Regions from separate parts of the Homo sapiens genome. Here region 1 is linked to region 2. Evidence: fine-mapped expression QTL. Tissue or cell type: whole blood. Region 2 holds a variant in brackets; the other region holds the start of a gene. All regions are shown on one strand. Distances are from middle to middle.

Region 1 (8,101 bases), 620 kb after region 2:
TATGTCCCTCTGCCTCCTCCCCATGCCCCCAGTTGCTGTGGCTTGATTCTGCTACCCTGACCCCACCATGTGCCAGGTGGCATCTGCCTTACTGCCTTCCCTGAGGAGCTGGGACATGCTGGGCAGTTGTCAGATGTAAAGGCACAGCTGGAGCAGAGGGCATGTCAGTAATGATTGGTCCCTGGGGAAGGTCTGGCTGGCTCCAGCACAGTGAGGCATTTAGGTATCTCTCGGTGACCGTTGGATTCCTGGAAGCAGTAGCTGTTCTGTTTGGATCTGGTAGGACAGGGCTCAGAGGGCTAGGCACGGAGGGAAGGTCAGAGGAGAAGGCAGGCAGGGCCCAGTGAGAGGGGAGCATGCCTTCCCCCACCCTGGCTTGCTCTTGGTCACAGGGCGGTTCTGGGCACTTGAACTCAGGGCCCAAGCAGAAGCACAGGCCCAGTCCTGGCTGCAAGCACAATAGCCTGAATGGGATTTCAGGTTAGGCAGGGTGGGAGGGGAGGCTCTCTGGCTTTAGTTTTGTTTTGTTTTCCAAATCAAGGTAACTTGCTCCCTTCTGCCTACAGGCCTTGGTCTTGGCTTGTCCTCACCCAGTCGGAACTCCCTACCACTTTCAGGAGAGTGGTTTTAGGCCCGTGGGGCTGTTCTGTTCCAAGCAGTGTGAGAACATGGCTGGTAGAGGCTCTAGCTGTGTGCGGGGCCTGAAGGGGAGTGGGTTCTCGCCCAAAGAGCATCTGCCCATTTCCCACCTTCCCTTCTCCCACCAGAAGCTTGCCTGAGCTGTTTGGACAAAAATCCAAACCCCACTTGGCTACTCTGGCCTGGCTTCAGCTTGGAACCCAATACCTAGGCTTACAGGCCATCCTGAGCCAGGGGCCTCTGGAAATTCTCTTCCTGATGGTCCTTTAGGTTTGGGCACAAAATATAATTGCCTCTCCCCTCTCCCATTTTCTCTCTTGGGAGCAATGGTCACAGTCCCTGGTACCTGAAAAGGTACCTAGGTCTAGGCCCTTCTTCCCTTTCCCTTCCTCTCCCCTACCCCAGAACTTTGGCTCCCTTTCCCTTCTCTCTCTGGTAGCTCCAGGAGGCCTGTGATCCAGCTCCCTGCCTAGCATCCATGACCTGTTGGATGTTACCTCCAATCAGTTTCCTGTCCTACCTGCCTCTTTGGCTTGGACCTATATGGCCATGCTCTGGCTCTACCCTTGGGAAGCCTGATCCCGGTGTGTGGCCCAGCTTGTTCAGGCCCTGGGATGCTGCATCTCCAGGCAACTATGCACTTTCCCGGGGAGAGAACCAGTATGAGAAGTGGGGGCAGGGCACACATTCATCTTTGTAGGAAGGTCTGGCCTGGGGTCGGGTGAAGGAGGGCCCAGGTCAGTTCTGGGGTCCCAGTGACCTGCTTTGCCATTCTCCTGGTGCCGCTGCTGCTCCCTGTTTCTGGAGCTGGATGTTCCCCAGCTGGCAGTTGAGCTGCCTGAGCCAATGTGTCTGTCTTTGGTAACTGAGTGAACCATAATAAAGGGGAACATTTGGCCCTGTGTGTTCTGCTGTGTCATGTGTCTTCCTGTGGACTTGCGTGGAGCCTCACAGCGGGCTGTGGGGCAGGGGCATGAAAGTATGGGGGGTGGGTGGATCTGTGGTCTGTCATTCCCCGAGACCTAGAGCTATACGACCCTGTGTGGCTCCTTCTCTGAGGCAGCCTTCAGTAGGTGATGAAATTGCCACCTAGGCCCCCTGCCTTGGGAGGAGGAAGTAGAAGAAGCAGGCTGGATCGGCCGGGCGTGGTGGCTCACACCTGTAATCCTAGCACTTTGGGAGGCTGAGGCGGGTGGATCACGAGGTCAGGAGATCGAGACCATCCTGGCTAACACGGTGAAACCCCATCTCTACTAAAAATACAAAAAATTAGGCGGGCGAGGTGGCAGGCACCTGTAGTCCCAGCTACTCGGGAGGCTGAGGCGGGAGAATGGCGTGAACACAGGAGGCGGAGCTTGCAGTGAGCCGAGATCGCACCACTGCACTCCAGCCTGGGCGACACAGCAAGACTCCATCTCAAAAAAAAAAGACACGGCTGGATCCCTGCGTAAGGGATGGTTTGGCCCAGATGGTCCACTGCGGCTAAGGGCGGGGGTAGAGCAGAGGCCCCACCTCAGCTCAGGGCAGGGGACCCGCAGCTGGTTCAGCCACCTCAATGAATACAGAGGTTCCTGGGGCCTGTGAAGGCTAGAAAATGAAGGGGGCAGGGAAGCATGCCAGTGTGTGTTCTTCTGCCGCCTTCCCTTTGCCCATTTGATGCCTTCCACCTGGATCGCTATTGGGATCCTCTATCTAACCTCCTGGCTGTCCTTCAAGATTCATTTCAAGTCACTCCTTCAAGAAGGCTTTCCTGCCTAGAGGTGTTGCTTCCTCATGGAGGATCTTACCCTGTCATTTTCTGTGTCCCTGTTTGTCTCAAGAACAGGGACGCATCTGATTTATCTCTGTATCCTGTGCACCTAAAATAGAAGAGGCTTGGTAAATATTAAGTGCCACGAGCCCTCTTTTACTAAGGACCTGCCAACATGGGCCCCATTCACACTAATACCATGAAGATAGCCCTTTTCTATACTTCGTCATAAAAAAGTAATACACACACCCGGGCAGCAACTTCCACACAAACAACACATGTGCAAGGAGATCACCATTATTTCCAGCAAAATGCTCCCCAGGGCCGAGCGTGGTGGCTCACTCCTGTAGTCCCAGCACTTTGGGAGGCCAAGGTGGGCGGATTGTTTGAGCCTAGGAGTTTGAGACCAGCCTGGGCAATAGAGTGAGAACCCGTCTCTACAAAAAATACAAACATTAGTCTGGCATGATGGTGCACTCCTGTAGTCCTGGCTACTCCATAGGCTGAGATAGGAGGATGGCTTAAGCCCAAAAGGTGGAGGTTGCAGTGAGTGGAGATAGCACCACTGCGCACTCCAGTCTGGGTGACAGAGCCAGACCCTGTCTCAAAAAAAAAAAAAAAAACAAAAAAAAAAACAGCTCCCCAACAAGATAGCAGGCTACAACATGCATGTGATGAAGCTGATTTGAAGCGCTCAGTGAGAGGTATCTGCATCAAGTTGCAGGAGGAGAAGAGAGAAAGGAGAGATAATCATGTTCCTGAGGTCTCAGCCCTGGATCAGGAAATCATTGAAGTATTAACATATCCTGACATTAAGGAAATGCTGATGTTTTTGGACTTTGGCAGTCTGTCCAACCTGCAGGTCACTCAGCCAACAGTGGGGATGAATTTCAAAACGCCACGTGGAAGCTGTTTGAATCTTTTTGAGATACTGTAATATTTTCAATAAACCTGGGACAACAGCAAAAAAAAAAAAAAAAAAAAAAAGGCCCCAAGCAACAAGCAGTGTGTGTGGGGCTGATAGGAGTGAGGAAAGGAGGTCGGACAGTTATGCCAGCCCCTATCGAGAGTCCCAGCAATACAAAGAACAGGGCCAGGGTTTGCTCCAGGATTTCCCCAGTGGACTACAACTCCCGGAAGGCAGAGAAGTGGACTACAGCTCCCAGAAGGCTGCGCGACATACAGCCAGCCCGGTGCTCTCGTGAGGCGTGCCAGTCAGATTCCGCGGGAGAGCGGCAGAGATACCGCGATATTTGGGAGCGGCCCCGAGACGCGCCTGGCGCGGGTGAGCAGTGGAAGGGGGCTGGGAAGCTGGGTTCTCGCGGCGGCGCGGGAGGGGAGGTTCGGGGAGCTGTGTCCGCGAGCGTGGGTCCACGGCTGTCTGTGTGTGTCCTTATTTTCCCCTGTGTGCCCATGAAGCTCTGTTTGCGACTGTGCGTGGGTAGGCGGCCGTCCATCTGTGCGACCTCACTTTCCCGGCTGTACGGGTGGGGCCGCCTGGAGCAGGAGGGACCCCCGAGCCCTGAGTGGAGGGTTTGCATCTGTACCCGTCCAGCCCGACTTTGTGCTGCTCTGCGATTATTTGTCCAGTGTCGTTTAATCTAGTTTAAATGATGGCCGTGTCAGCTCCTCACACTGAACGCTTACCCGGGCTGCCCAAAGTACAAAGTGTATTTAAAAAGTTGGTAAAATTAAAAAAGGAAAGCCATGGGATGTTGGAAGTAGCCCTAGGCCTGCCAAAAAGTGCTGAGTGCTATTTAAAAATTAGGCCAAATCTTGTCAGAAAAGAACTTCCTGCTGTCCTTGAAGTATTTGGAAGCAGGTGCTAGATGGTGAGCAGGAGAGGTTGCCAAGTTGGGGAAGTGGTGGTTGTCCTGGAGCAGGGGTTTCCACATCTCTCACAGTGGCTGGGAAGTAGCAATTCGCAGTCACTGCCTTTCTAGTAGCCCACGTGTGTGAGTGTGTGTGTTAGATACATTTATCCCTCAGTATCCGCAGGGGATTGCTGTATACTTTTTTTTTTTGAGACAAGGTCTCATTCTGTGACCCAGGCTGGAGTGCAGTGGCAGGAACATGGCTCACTGCAGCCTCGACCTCCTGGGCTCAAGGGATCCTCCTGCCTCAGCCTCCTGTGTAGCTGGAACCACAGGCATAAACAACCATACCCGGCTAATTTTTATTTTATTTCATTTTTGTAGAGACAGGGTCTCACCATGTTGCCCAGGCTGGTCTCAAACTCCTGGCTCAAGCTATCCTCCTTCCTTGGCCTCTCAAAATGCTGGGATTACAGGTGTGAGCCACCACATCACCCTCCTGTATACTCTTTTTTCTTTTCTTTTTTTTTTTTTGAGTCAGGGTCTCACTCTTGTCTCCCAGGCTGGAGTGTAGTGGTGCAATCATAGCTCACTGCATCTTCGAACTCCCTGGGCTCAGATAATCCTCCCACCTCAGCCTCCCAGGTAGCTGGGACTGCAGGCACGTGCCACCACGCCCTCCATATAATTTAAATAATCTCTAGATTACTTATAAAACCTGATACAGTGTAAATGCTATGTAAATAGCTACACACTTTTTTTTTTTTGTGGTACTATTATTATATTTTGAAATGGTCTCTCTCTGTCACCCAGGCTGGAGTGCAGTGGCACAAACATGGCTCACTGCAGCCTTCTAGGCTCAAGCGATCCTCCTGCCTCAGCCTCCCAAGTAGTTGAGACCACAGGCATGTGCCACCACACCTCACTAACTTTTAAATTTTTTGTATGGGGTCTTGCTATGTTACCCAGGCTGGTCTCGAGTACCTGGGTTTGCTCAATCCTCCCACCTTGCCCTCTTAAATTGCTGGGATTACAGGTGTAAGCTGGAGCAGAAGCCTGGGCAGCCGGTAGTGAGGGGCTTTGATGTTAGGCTAAAGGATTCAGGCTCATAATGGATCTTGGATCCCTGCCTACCCACCACCCACTTCCCTTGTTTGGTTCTGCTTTGTCTTAGGCTCAGTTCTCATCCTTCCTGTATTGAGCTTGAACGTATACCCTGTCTGGCCTTGCTTTCCTTGCTCTGTCTTTAGTCTGGTTCTGTGCCAGCTCCACCTTTGCCCATATAGGGACTGGCAGGTATCCCTGAAACCTAAAACTCTGCCCTGAATTAAACTCATCAGAGGAGACTTAAACATCACAAGCTGAGGCTCTTTGCTCTGTCTGTCCCTGTCTTTCTGGAGGATAGAGAAGCTGCCATTTTTCTGGCTGTGGCTTACCTGCTTGGCTAGTGCCCTGGGATCTTGAGGCTCAGTAATCAAAGCGTGTAGCCCTATAACCTGCCCACTTGCCAACTCTTTTTGCTGCTCAGGAGTTCCTGTGAATTCAGCAGAGCCCGGGGAAGTCAGGTACTACAGCTACCTGTGCAAATAGGTGACTCCAACAGGTTCTGGTTACAGTAATAGACTTACTGGTTTGGAATTTGATCCTCTTTGCAAGCAAATGAAGGAATCCTGCCAGCCATCACCCTTCCTGGAATTCTCAGGTTGAACTGATTGGACCTCGCCTCCAAATGTTGGTTAAATGATCCACTTTCTATTCTTCAAGTATATTAAGCACACACATACACACACACACCCTCTTTTTTAGGAAGGTAGGTAGGTTTGATCCTTAGCACAGCTTTGCTAAGCAGGCTAAGTACTGTATTTCGGACTATAGTGCCTGCTGTGGGGAAGCAGTTGAAGTCACTAATACAGATTCCTGCCCCAAGTTTAACTGACTGCTTTCTGTAACCTGTTTCCTAGGAATGAGATCAGCTTGATGTGGAGGAGGTTCAGGGGCCTCAGAGATAAAATTTGGCTTCTGGTTTTGCAGGAATCTACCTATCCTAGCACCAGTTGGCTAGGGTGGGACAGGGTCAGGGTTTGCGATCTGGCAGGTAGGTTTCCCTGGAGAATAAAGAATGTGCCTCCATCACCTACCAATGATGTGTTCTGGGAAGAAGCTGGCTGGTAGCCCTTCTGTACCTTGTCAGATTCTAACAGGGCTCCCCACTCCCTGGGGTAAACTCAGTTCTCCAACTCTGGCCAAGCATTGCCCTGGTTGGGGCCCTGCAGTGGAGCAGACATTGAGATTACTGGCAAATCAAACTTTGGGTGATCTTGCCCTAGGGAACCAGCCTGTGCTTAACCCCTGCTGAGAAGTGGGATAATGCAGCCAAACATGATCCTCAGCCCACGTGGGTTGTGCTCAAGTGCTGAAGGCAAATCCTGGGCAGAGAGGCTAGAGAGCCAAGGGGCCTGTGAGTGAAGAGGAGATAGGCCCCTGTGGATGCTCAGCCATGGAGGTAGCCATTGGACAACTCACCAGCGCTGCTTCCTGGGCAGCTGCCTGGGTTTCCCTTGCCATGCTGATTCTTTTTTGAGTGCATCTTCTAGGACCTTCTGTCTTGGAAGGAGAGCCCCTTACTGCTCTCTTTCATGTATTGACTCAAAGTTTCTGCTGGAAGGAGCTTCAGAGATCATCTGGTCCTACCTCTGCATTTTTCAGATGAAGGGACAGGTCCAGGGAGGGAATGACCCTGGACCAGGGTCACTCCAGGTCAGGAGCACACCATGGTCAGGGCCCAGGGCTTCTGCTTCACAGGCTAGGTATCTGTCTTCTGCTCACACTGCCTTGGAGGGTATAGTTATTCATTCAGCACCTGTTCAGGACTGCCGGCTAGTGGACTGCTGGTTGGCAATTAGACCCGGTCACACATTCAGGGAGCTTGCTGGTGGAGGGAGAGGCAAGGAAACTGATGTGTTAATTGAGTCTGTGATCACCAAAAAGGTGCATCCCAGGGAAGGACTGATCTCAAATAATTTCAGACAGGTGTCATTCCTGTCTTCTCAAACTCAACCTACAGATTCCCCAGAGGCAGCTACTGTGTTTTCCACAATTCCTTTGCATGGTGTTCTTTGTAATCGGTCCTCAGTGATGGTTGCTGATGAAGCACGTTCTGCTGGCCCAACCCGCCACGTGTAGGTTTTGGTGTCCATCAGCCATATTATCATGAGTGCACACTTCTAGCAACGTCTGAGAGCCAGAGGAAGAAGCAAACCAGCTAATCTCCTGGGGTGGCCTGCATCCCCTTTATGCTGGTTTCTTCCTGGGCTTTGATTTGTACGGTGGTGCCCATCTTGATTAACAGGGACAGGGACAGAGAGGCAAATCTCTTGGCTCCCTGGAGCACCCAAACCTCCCTGTTGCCCAGGGTTCCACCTCATGAGCATCTTTGGAACCCATCCCTTCCTGCCGCTTCCTTTCACCAGTCAGCCCAGTCCACCGCAGCAGCTCCTCTCGCCCTCCAGTCTCTCCACTAACAGGGTCCCTTTGACACTGTCACCAGGTGCCAGCACCGTCTTTCTAAAACCAAAACTCCTCACCCTGGCCCTCGCTGCCCACGGCATTCTGGCCTCACCCTGACTTTCAGTCTCACTTTCTGCCCCTCTACCACCCCCCATCACAGTCCGGCCTCACTAGTAAGCCACTCCCTGTTCCCCAACCTGCCACCCTCCTCAGGACCTTCACCTTGGCAAGATTGTTCCTTCCTTTGAAGTGATTTCTTCCTGTCTCTGAAAAACTAACTCATCCTTCAGGACTCAACCCCAATGTCATTTTTTCTGGGATGCAATCTCTGACTTCTAGAGATGGTCACCCTGAGCAGCCACGCACCTGGTACAGCCCTTCCCCACAGCAC
Region 2 (8,101 bases):
TGACTCAACTTTCATCAGCTTCAGGCCCCCCGTGGGGGTCCTTCCCCCACCGGATGCTCACTTTGCTGTAATGGGGCAGGATGTGGGTTCCCTGCTGTGGGAGAGCAGCCCCCACAGCAGCTGCTCCCTAAGATGGTTCTGGCAGGAACCAATGAGAGGAGAAAGCTGATCCTCAACCCCTGCAGGGGCCCTGCAGCCCAAGCAGAGGGCCTCTCAGCCCACCTCGGTCCCAAGTAGGACAGATTGACAGGTGACCTCCCTGTCTCAGAGCCTCAGGGTGTCTTGGAACAAGTGATCCCATCATCTTCCTCTGAGGTCCAAGACTCGGGTGCTAATGGACTCTGTGTAGGGAACCCTGGTCACTGGGGCAGACTCTGTCCCAGACCTGATCTTTGCCATTTTGCCAGAGTGGCCCACCTGACTGCTTCTCTCTGCTGTGTGTATCACTTGTATTAACCGCGAACCCAGCAAAGAGAGCAGGAGCTTGGGCCGGGCACAGTGGCTCACACATGTAATCCCAGCATTCTGGGAGGCTGAAGCAGGTGGATGACTTGAGGTCAGGAGTTTGAGACAAGCCTGGTCAACATGGTGAAACCCCGTATCTACTAAAAATTAAAAAAAAAAAAAAATTAACCAGGCGTGGTGTAATCCCAGCTACTCAAGAGGCTGAGGCAAGAGAATCACTCGAACTCGGGAGGCAGAGGTTGCAGTGAGTCAAGATCGTGCCACCGCACTCCAGCCTAGGCAACAGAACAAGATCCTATCTCAAAAAAAAAAAAAAAAAGTAAAAGTAGAACCCCTGTTTCTTGAGGACAAAGATTAGATGCATCTTTTTGTTGTGAAATTTTGGTAAACTACTTACTCTTTCTCAGCCTCAGTTCTTTGAACTATGAAATGGAGACAATAGTAATAGTATCAACCTCAAAGGGCTGGTGAGAAAACTAACCAAGACAATTCACACAAAGTTTCAGAACAGTCCCGGGCAGGTGCGTGACTTACGCATTTGGCTTTTGTTCACCACTATTACTACTTGCTTATTGAAGCTGAGCCAGGTGGCTGAGCAATGTCCCTTTCTGGCAAGGAGGGTGGAGGCAAGTGTCACATTTCAGAAAGATCCCTGGGCTCCTGTTGAATCTGTCCCCACACCAAAACATGCCCGTGGGGGCTCTAGCTCCTGCCCCAGCAGCGAAAGGGGCTCCTCCTTCTCTGGTGCCCAGTCCTAGCTCACCTGCTCTTCACAAGCCTCCTCCCAGCACAGCCTGCACCACACAGGTGCTCAGTAAGGGGGTTGCTCTGAACAGGGAGCAGGCCCACATGCTGAGAGTGGTGGAGGCGTGCAGGCTCTGATGACCACCTGAACCCAGACTCCAGGGCAGGACAGGTCCTTACAGACCGTAAGGGCTTCCTGCCTACCCTCTTCCCATGCAGTTACCTCAACCCTGGGACACCAGGAAGGTTGAGCATTCCAGGAAAGCCCCGACCCACCCAGGAAACCCAAGTACCTGGTGGGGCCTCATCTGGCCCATTGTCCTGAAAGGACAGGAATAAAGGCTCTCTCCTCATGGCCACACACCCTAGGGACGTCCAGCCTCCAGCTTTCTGTGGGTGGGGCAAATGACTGAGGAGGCTTCCCTCCCTGCAGGCGCCTCCCTCTGGGGCCTCCTGTGGTCCAGTCGTCCCTGGTCCCCAGCTCTCAGGTGGGTCATAGGGCATCTCAGCAGGACCACCAGGAAGAGCATCAGGAGGGGAAGGAGCCAGAGAGCCCTCCAGGCCAGTGCACTGCTAACTCAACATCTCATCTTCCTATCTCGTCCCTTCTGCTCACCTCCGGAGACTCCCCCTCCCCTCTCATGCTCTTCACTGGCAGGTTATGATGGCCCAGAGATCCCCACCAGAGTCCCAGATATCAGTGGGGATCCCAGCCTATTCCTCCAAGCTCCCAGTTGCCAGTGACAGGGAGGCAGAAACAGCCTGGAAATTAACTGTGGGTTCTCCCTGAGCCTGTGGATACATGGAAAGAGAGCTTCACCACCACCCCCTTCTCTGAATATACATACAGGATCTGAGGAGGGAGGATTCTGTGTGGATGCATGTGTGCACAGATGTGCATGTTTGTACGTGTGTATGGGTGAGCAGGTCATACGTGTGGTCCCATGTGCCCACCTGTTGTATATATGCATGCTTGTTTTGTGTAAGTGAGCATAAGAGGTCAAGCCAGAGAGAGAAATAGGAACAAGGAGAGACAGAGAGAGAGAGAATAGAAACAGAGACCAACAGGGAAACAGAATGAGACTGAGACAGAGAACAACAGAAGGCCAGACAGGTAGACAAGCCACAGTTCCATCTTCCCTGGTGCTGGCTGCCAAGGCAGACAACTCTCCTCTCACTTCATTGATGTTCTGCCTGTGTTTATACCCATGATTGGGGTGGAGTTCAGGAAAGGATGTATCAGGGCTAGGACGCCCCCACCTCCACACTCACAGGGCCAGTCAGGGCCCTCTGCAGGGGCTGCCATTTCCTCAAGCTGAGGAATGGGCTTGGATCCCTCGGATGCCTTCCAGGGTGCAGGGGCGCTCCCAGTGACTGGGCTCTTGTGGTGGCTGGGGAGGGGGAGCTCCTCTGACAGGCCCCATGCTGGGGGAAACGTCCTGAGACTGACCTATCACGGGCTGACATGCACACCAAGGAGGTCTCACATCTGCTGGGAAATGAGGGGCTGGTGGAGGTGAGAAAACCTCAAGTTCTAATGCCTTCCCAACACCTTCACCTCACCTGAGAAGCTTCTAGATTCCACCCACCCCTGTTTCCTTGGGGGAGGGTGTTGTGTGGAGGTGGGAAGAGGCAGGAGTCCAGGTTCTAGGCCAGGCTCTGAAGGGGCAGGTAGCTCAGAGCAAGAGGCTGGCCTTGCACCTGCTCTGCCTAATGGGACAGTAATGCCCACGATGGCATTCCGCCTCTGAGGGCTGTGGTGAGGCTGTGGAGAGATGTCAGGGACAAGAAAAGGCCTTGGAAACCAGCTGTGGGAAGAACAGCCCATGAGCTCAGCATTTCCCCTGGCTTCCCCGAAAGCCGGCCCCCAGGAGAGGAAGGTGACTGTGACTTCTGCCGCCACCACTTCCTGCAGCTGGGACCCTGCTCACTCAGAATGTGGAACCGTCATGGGCCAGCAGTGTCACCTGCACACTCACTCCTGCCACCAGGAAACCCTTCTGCAGGGCAGGTCCCCAAGCCCCGTATCTCAGGTTCTGACCAGGATGTGTCCTCAGCAGTGGTCGCCCGACATTGATGGGAGGGACGGGTCCCAGCTGGGCATCAGGATATGGAGGGTTTCATTCCAGCTCTGCCACCAAGGTACTGGTTGCCTCGAGGCATTCCCCTTGCTGGACCTCATTGAGGAGACTTCCTGTATTGCTAAGCAGGCAGGAACCCCAGAAGCTCAGAGCCGGAAGGCACCAGGGCTTCCCACAAGATGTGGAGGACCCAAAACAGGGAGACAGGCCCTGGCACCTAAGCGTTCCTTCTGGGCTCTACACAAGGTGTGGGTGGCACCAGAGCTACTGCAGGCTACTTGATCCAAGGGGCAGTCCTGCTCCACCGTGGGCTGGACGAAGACATCATCTACTCCAGGGCATCCACGCGTGGGGTGGGAGCCAACAGACCTGCGGTGCTGCCTTCCAGCTTGGGACTGGCCCCCGTACTCCATCCCGTGCACCCAGCCCTTCCGGCTCACCCCTTCCATGGCATGTTGTGCTCTCTCGCACCCCATGCTTTGCATGTGCTGGTTTCATTACCTGCAACACCTTCACCCCACTTGTGTCTGGCTAGCGTCCCCTCCAGAATGGAGAGTGGACAAAACATGGGGTCTGGAATTCCAGGGGTCAGGGCCCAGGCTGTTAGGAAAGGCAGAGTGTGAAGCAGACCCTCAGCAGGCCTCACAGCAGGGAGTGCTGAGCTCAGGGTTCTCAGGGGCCAGGATGGGACAGACGCCGAGGAGATGGGGGTCGGTAGCTGGGGCAGATTGTGCAGACAGTCTGGATTGTGGAGGAGCTGCCGGGCGCAGGGCCCCACTTGGCGCGGGCGGCTGTGGGGGAGGCTGAAACTGCAGACTATTTTTAGGCTCCTGCTGAATTGAGAGATGAGGATGCTCTGGGCTACAAGCCCTCATTCGCTGGGGAAAGACTAAGGGGGCCCCAGTTCCCCCGATCTGCCCCCAGAGCTCAAAGTCTCCAGAGCTTCCTCTTTTGTCTCTAGGGACCAAGGGCTGGGGTCAGGAAGTGGACTGGAAGTATCCCCAGCACCCTAGATAGGCAAACACCCACAAGAAGTGATTTCCATACCATTTGCACACTGCCCTGCTTCCTGATCAGAAGGAACGGAAACGTTCCCTTTCAGAAGACCCTCAGCGGAGCAGTGCATTCACCAGAGTCCACTTTCACCTGCCCCACTGGGTATCAGGAGAGTCCCAGGAGAGCGACACAAGCTCTAAAGTCAGAAAGCACAAA[C/T]GGGGGTTGTTAGCACTGTGGTGTAGCATCCGCTAGGCTCGGGGTAGCAAATAAGTTCCATCTGATCAATTGCTGGTGACTCCTAAGGAGAAATGCTGGTGAGGATCCATTCATTCATTCCACAAATAATTTACTGACCACCTACTGTGTGCTAGGTGCTACTCTAGGTGCTATGAAATTTAGCTGTGAACAAAAAAAGACAAAATTCCCTGCCCCCGCAGAGCAGATATTCCGTAACAGTGTTGTCCAACAGAAATACAATATGAGCCACACACATAATTTAAAATGTTCCAGTAGCCACACTAGATAAAAGTTAAAGAAGACCAGGAGCGGTGGCTCACGCCTGTAATCCCAGCATTTTGGGAGGCCAAGGCGGGCAGATCATTTGAGGTCAGGAGTTGGAGACCAGCCTGGCCAACATGGTGAAACCCCGTCTCTACTGAAAATACAAACATTAGCCGGGCGTGGTGGCGGGCGCCTGTAATCTCAGCTACTCGGGAGGCTGAGGTAGGAGAATCGCTTAACCTGGGAGGCGAAGGTTGTGGTGAGCCAAGGTCCTGCCACTGCACTTCATTCTGTGCTACAGAGCAAGACTCCATCTAAAAAACAAAACAACAACAACAAAAAAAGTTAAAGAAATAGGTGGAATTAATTTTTGTATGTTATCTAGCCAAATATATCTTATATCTGAAATATTATCATTTCTTTTTTTCTTTTTTTTTTGAGACAGAGTTTCATTCTTGTTGCCCAGGCTGGAGTAAAATGGAGCAATCTCAGCTCACTGCAACCTTTGCCTCCCAGGTTCAGGCGATTCTCCTGCCTCAGCCTCCCAAATAACTGGGATTACAGGTACACGCCACCATGCCCACCTAATTTTTGTATTTTTAGTAGAGACAGGGTTTCACCATGTTAGCCAGGCTGGTCTCAAACTCCTGACCTCAGGTGATCTACTGACCTCAGCCTCCCAAAGCTCTGGGATTACAGGTGTGAGCCACCACGCCCAACCTCTAATATTATCATTTCAAAGTGTAATCGATGTAAAAATTTAAGGTCATTTTTTTCATATTATGTTTTCAAAATCCAGTGTGTTGTTTATACTTACAGCACATCTCAATTCAGATGAGCCCTATTTCAAGTGCCCAGTAGCCCCCAGAGAATGCAAGTTCTGAAGAAAATCACTCATATGAGCTCAGGAAAGGAATGCCACAATTGATCAGCAATGCCTGCTCCAGGCATAGGCTACAGCTGAATCAAGCTGCAAGCCATGTGTTTCCCCACCATGATATAGGCTCAGCCCCAAAGGACGTGTTCACCTCTACCTAAGCCCTTCTGAGCTCATTTATTTTGCCCAACTTGAAAGAACTGCCAGAGTTCTGGGACCTTGACTTGGTTCGAGTGCAGCGGTTCTGGTGTGAACACCACCCTACAGAAACGCCCCAGCATACTAACAGGGCCAGCGCCTCCCGAGTGTGGTTCTGTGCTCCTTCCCTTGGTGGGGGCTGACTCATGGCCATTGGTGACCCTGAGAATGTGGATTTTGTTTTTGTTTTTCTCCCAAGGTCTCTTCCTCCCAGAGTTAACCAATATTGAGATAAAAGTGTTTCCGAGCCAGATTTAGCCATTTCAGCCCCATTCCACTGGCCCAAGCCTACAGACCTCCTGTCTGGCACTGTAGCCAGGATGGCTGCACTTTCTTTTCCAGTAAGCAGAAGGCTAAAATTGGACCATTTAAGGAGCTAGAAACACCTGGAAATGGTGAGGAGTGGGTCTTTGGTGTAAGAGATGGGGTGTAAGAAAACACGGATCTCAGGCTCCCATTATCCTCACCATTATTATCATTATCATCTACCCCACCCCTGCTCAAAATCCTTCAATTGCTCCCTAGTGTCTGCAGGATAAAGATCTTGCTTTAGTTCCCAGGATCGGGAACTGCTGGAGTCATCCAGTCTCACCTCTAGATACTCTCCCTTCTCTCATCTTATTCATTCATTCAGTAAGAATGTCCTGAGCACCTAATATGTGCCAGGCACTGTTCTAGGTACTAGAGATACAGCTGTGAACAAAACTGCCAAGGATTTCTGGCTTCATGGAGCTCACTTTACTCCAGCGAGCCCATAACACCCCAGGCCCTCTCACACTCCCAGGCCTTTGTAAATGCTGTTCCCTCTCCATTCAGTCACTCTCCTCCTGGGGAACTTCTACACATCCTCTAAGGCCCTACTCAAAGCCTTCCCTGAGCACTCCGCTCAATGGGTTAGGTTCCTCCTCTGAGCTCCCACCTCCCACCTAGGACCGTCACACGTATGGTCACTGTCCAGCCCACAGCCCTTCCCTACCAGGCTTTAAGTGTCTCCAGGGCAGGGGCTGTGCCTTCTCCCCCAGGGACCCCAGAGCTTGCTTCCAGGTGCACCCTCCCAAAGATCAGGAGTGAACAGGCTGAGGCATTAGTGTAGGGGGGATCCAGGATTCCTCTGGAGAATTCCATGTCATTCTGAAATCTTTGCCTGGGAGCATCTTCCTCCTGGCATTCCAGGGGAGGGAATCACAGGAGCAAATGCAGAGCGGTTCCAGCAAAGGAAGGTAGAAGTCTGAGGAGAGATGGGAAGGGTATGATTTGATGTAGCAGAGAGACAAGAGGACAGCAGCCTTCCCTCGGGGAGAGAGGATGACAGGACATGTGGATGGGGGATAAACCGTAATGACTCTACATTCCTAAAGTGGGAGGGAGGCAGAACGAAATCTGCAGTTCCCTGCTGCCTTCCCCAGGAGAGCTGAGCTTTCAGTCTCGTCCCTCTTCCTCCTCCCCAACGAGAATGCACAAGAGAGGGGAGAAGGATGGGCCTGGTTCCTGCCCCTGGCCTGGCTCTGGTCCCTGGCCTGGCCCTCAAGAAGCCAGTGCTGGGACTGTGGATATCGTGTGGTTATGGCTAGAGCAGATCCTCCCACCACCCGGGCCCAGCCTAACCGTCCTGCCCACACACCGCCAGCTAGAGGCCTGCTGTGCTGCTTGTCCATTGGGGAAAACAGGGCAGGAGGCTTGTGCCTGGCTGGCCTCATCCCTGCCAGCTCATTTACATGGAATTTACACGGGCTCATTTCATGCCTTAATGCACACGGCTTCCCTCCCAGCCCAGCCTCTCCTGGTGCCTCCACAGAGACAATGGAGTGGGTTCCATCACTCAAATCCCCTGCCATGGACCCATCAGAGCACCAGGAGCATCTCTGGAAAGAGGGAGGCTGCTGAGGCCCAGAGAGGACAGGGAACTCAGTGGAGACCACCAGCAGCACTCCAGGAGGGACCAAGGCTTAAGCCCACACTTTGTCCACTCGCCGCTCAGACCATTTGGGGCTGGAATTCACTCCCATCCTTTGCTTTGCCACCAGCCTCCAGCTTGCTGAGCAGGAGCCTGTGAAACCCCCATCCTGATGCCGATGCTTGGCTGTGCACTGGAATACAGACGGACTGGGACAGACGAGATGTGCAGGAAAGGGTCCACAGAAGCCCAGGTCCAGCCCTGCCTTTTACACAGGAGAGAAATGAGGCTCGGGAAAGGCGAGGGTCTGCCCAGGACCACAAACGCCAAAAATGGTGGCAGCAG

The links. PIP is the estimated chance that this variant, and not a neighbour inherited with it, causes the effect.
Region 1: it holds the start of PPCDC, and the variant in region 2 is fine-mapped to the expression of PPCDC in whole blood (TOPMed, PIP above 0.99).

What each region holds. Positions count from the first base shown.
Region 1 is chr15:75,019,953-75,028,053 of GRCh38, forward strand. It overlaps PPCDC (phosphopantothenoylcysteine decarboxylase), which reads left to right and starts at 3,638. Exons shown (of 6, transcript NM_021823.5): 1 at 3,638-3,674. SCAMP5 (secretory carrier membrane protein 5) reads left to right here. Exons shown (of 7, transcript NM_138967.4): 7 at 1-1,543.
Region 2 is chr15:74,400,024-74,408,124 of GRCh38, forward strand. No RefSeq gene overlaps it. Among named protein-coding and RNA genes, the nearest start is that of MIR6881, 7.4 kb to the right of the region's middle. RefSeq lists enhancers at 1-150, 1-138, 1,419-1,919, 2,649-2,698, 2,919-3,448 and 7 more and a silencer at 2,944-3,153. The variant C/T (reference allele first, on the strand shown) is at 4,503.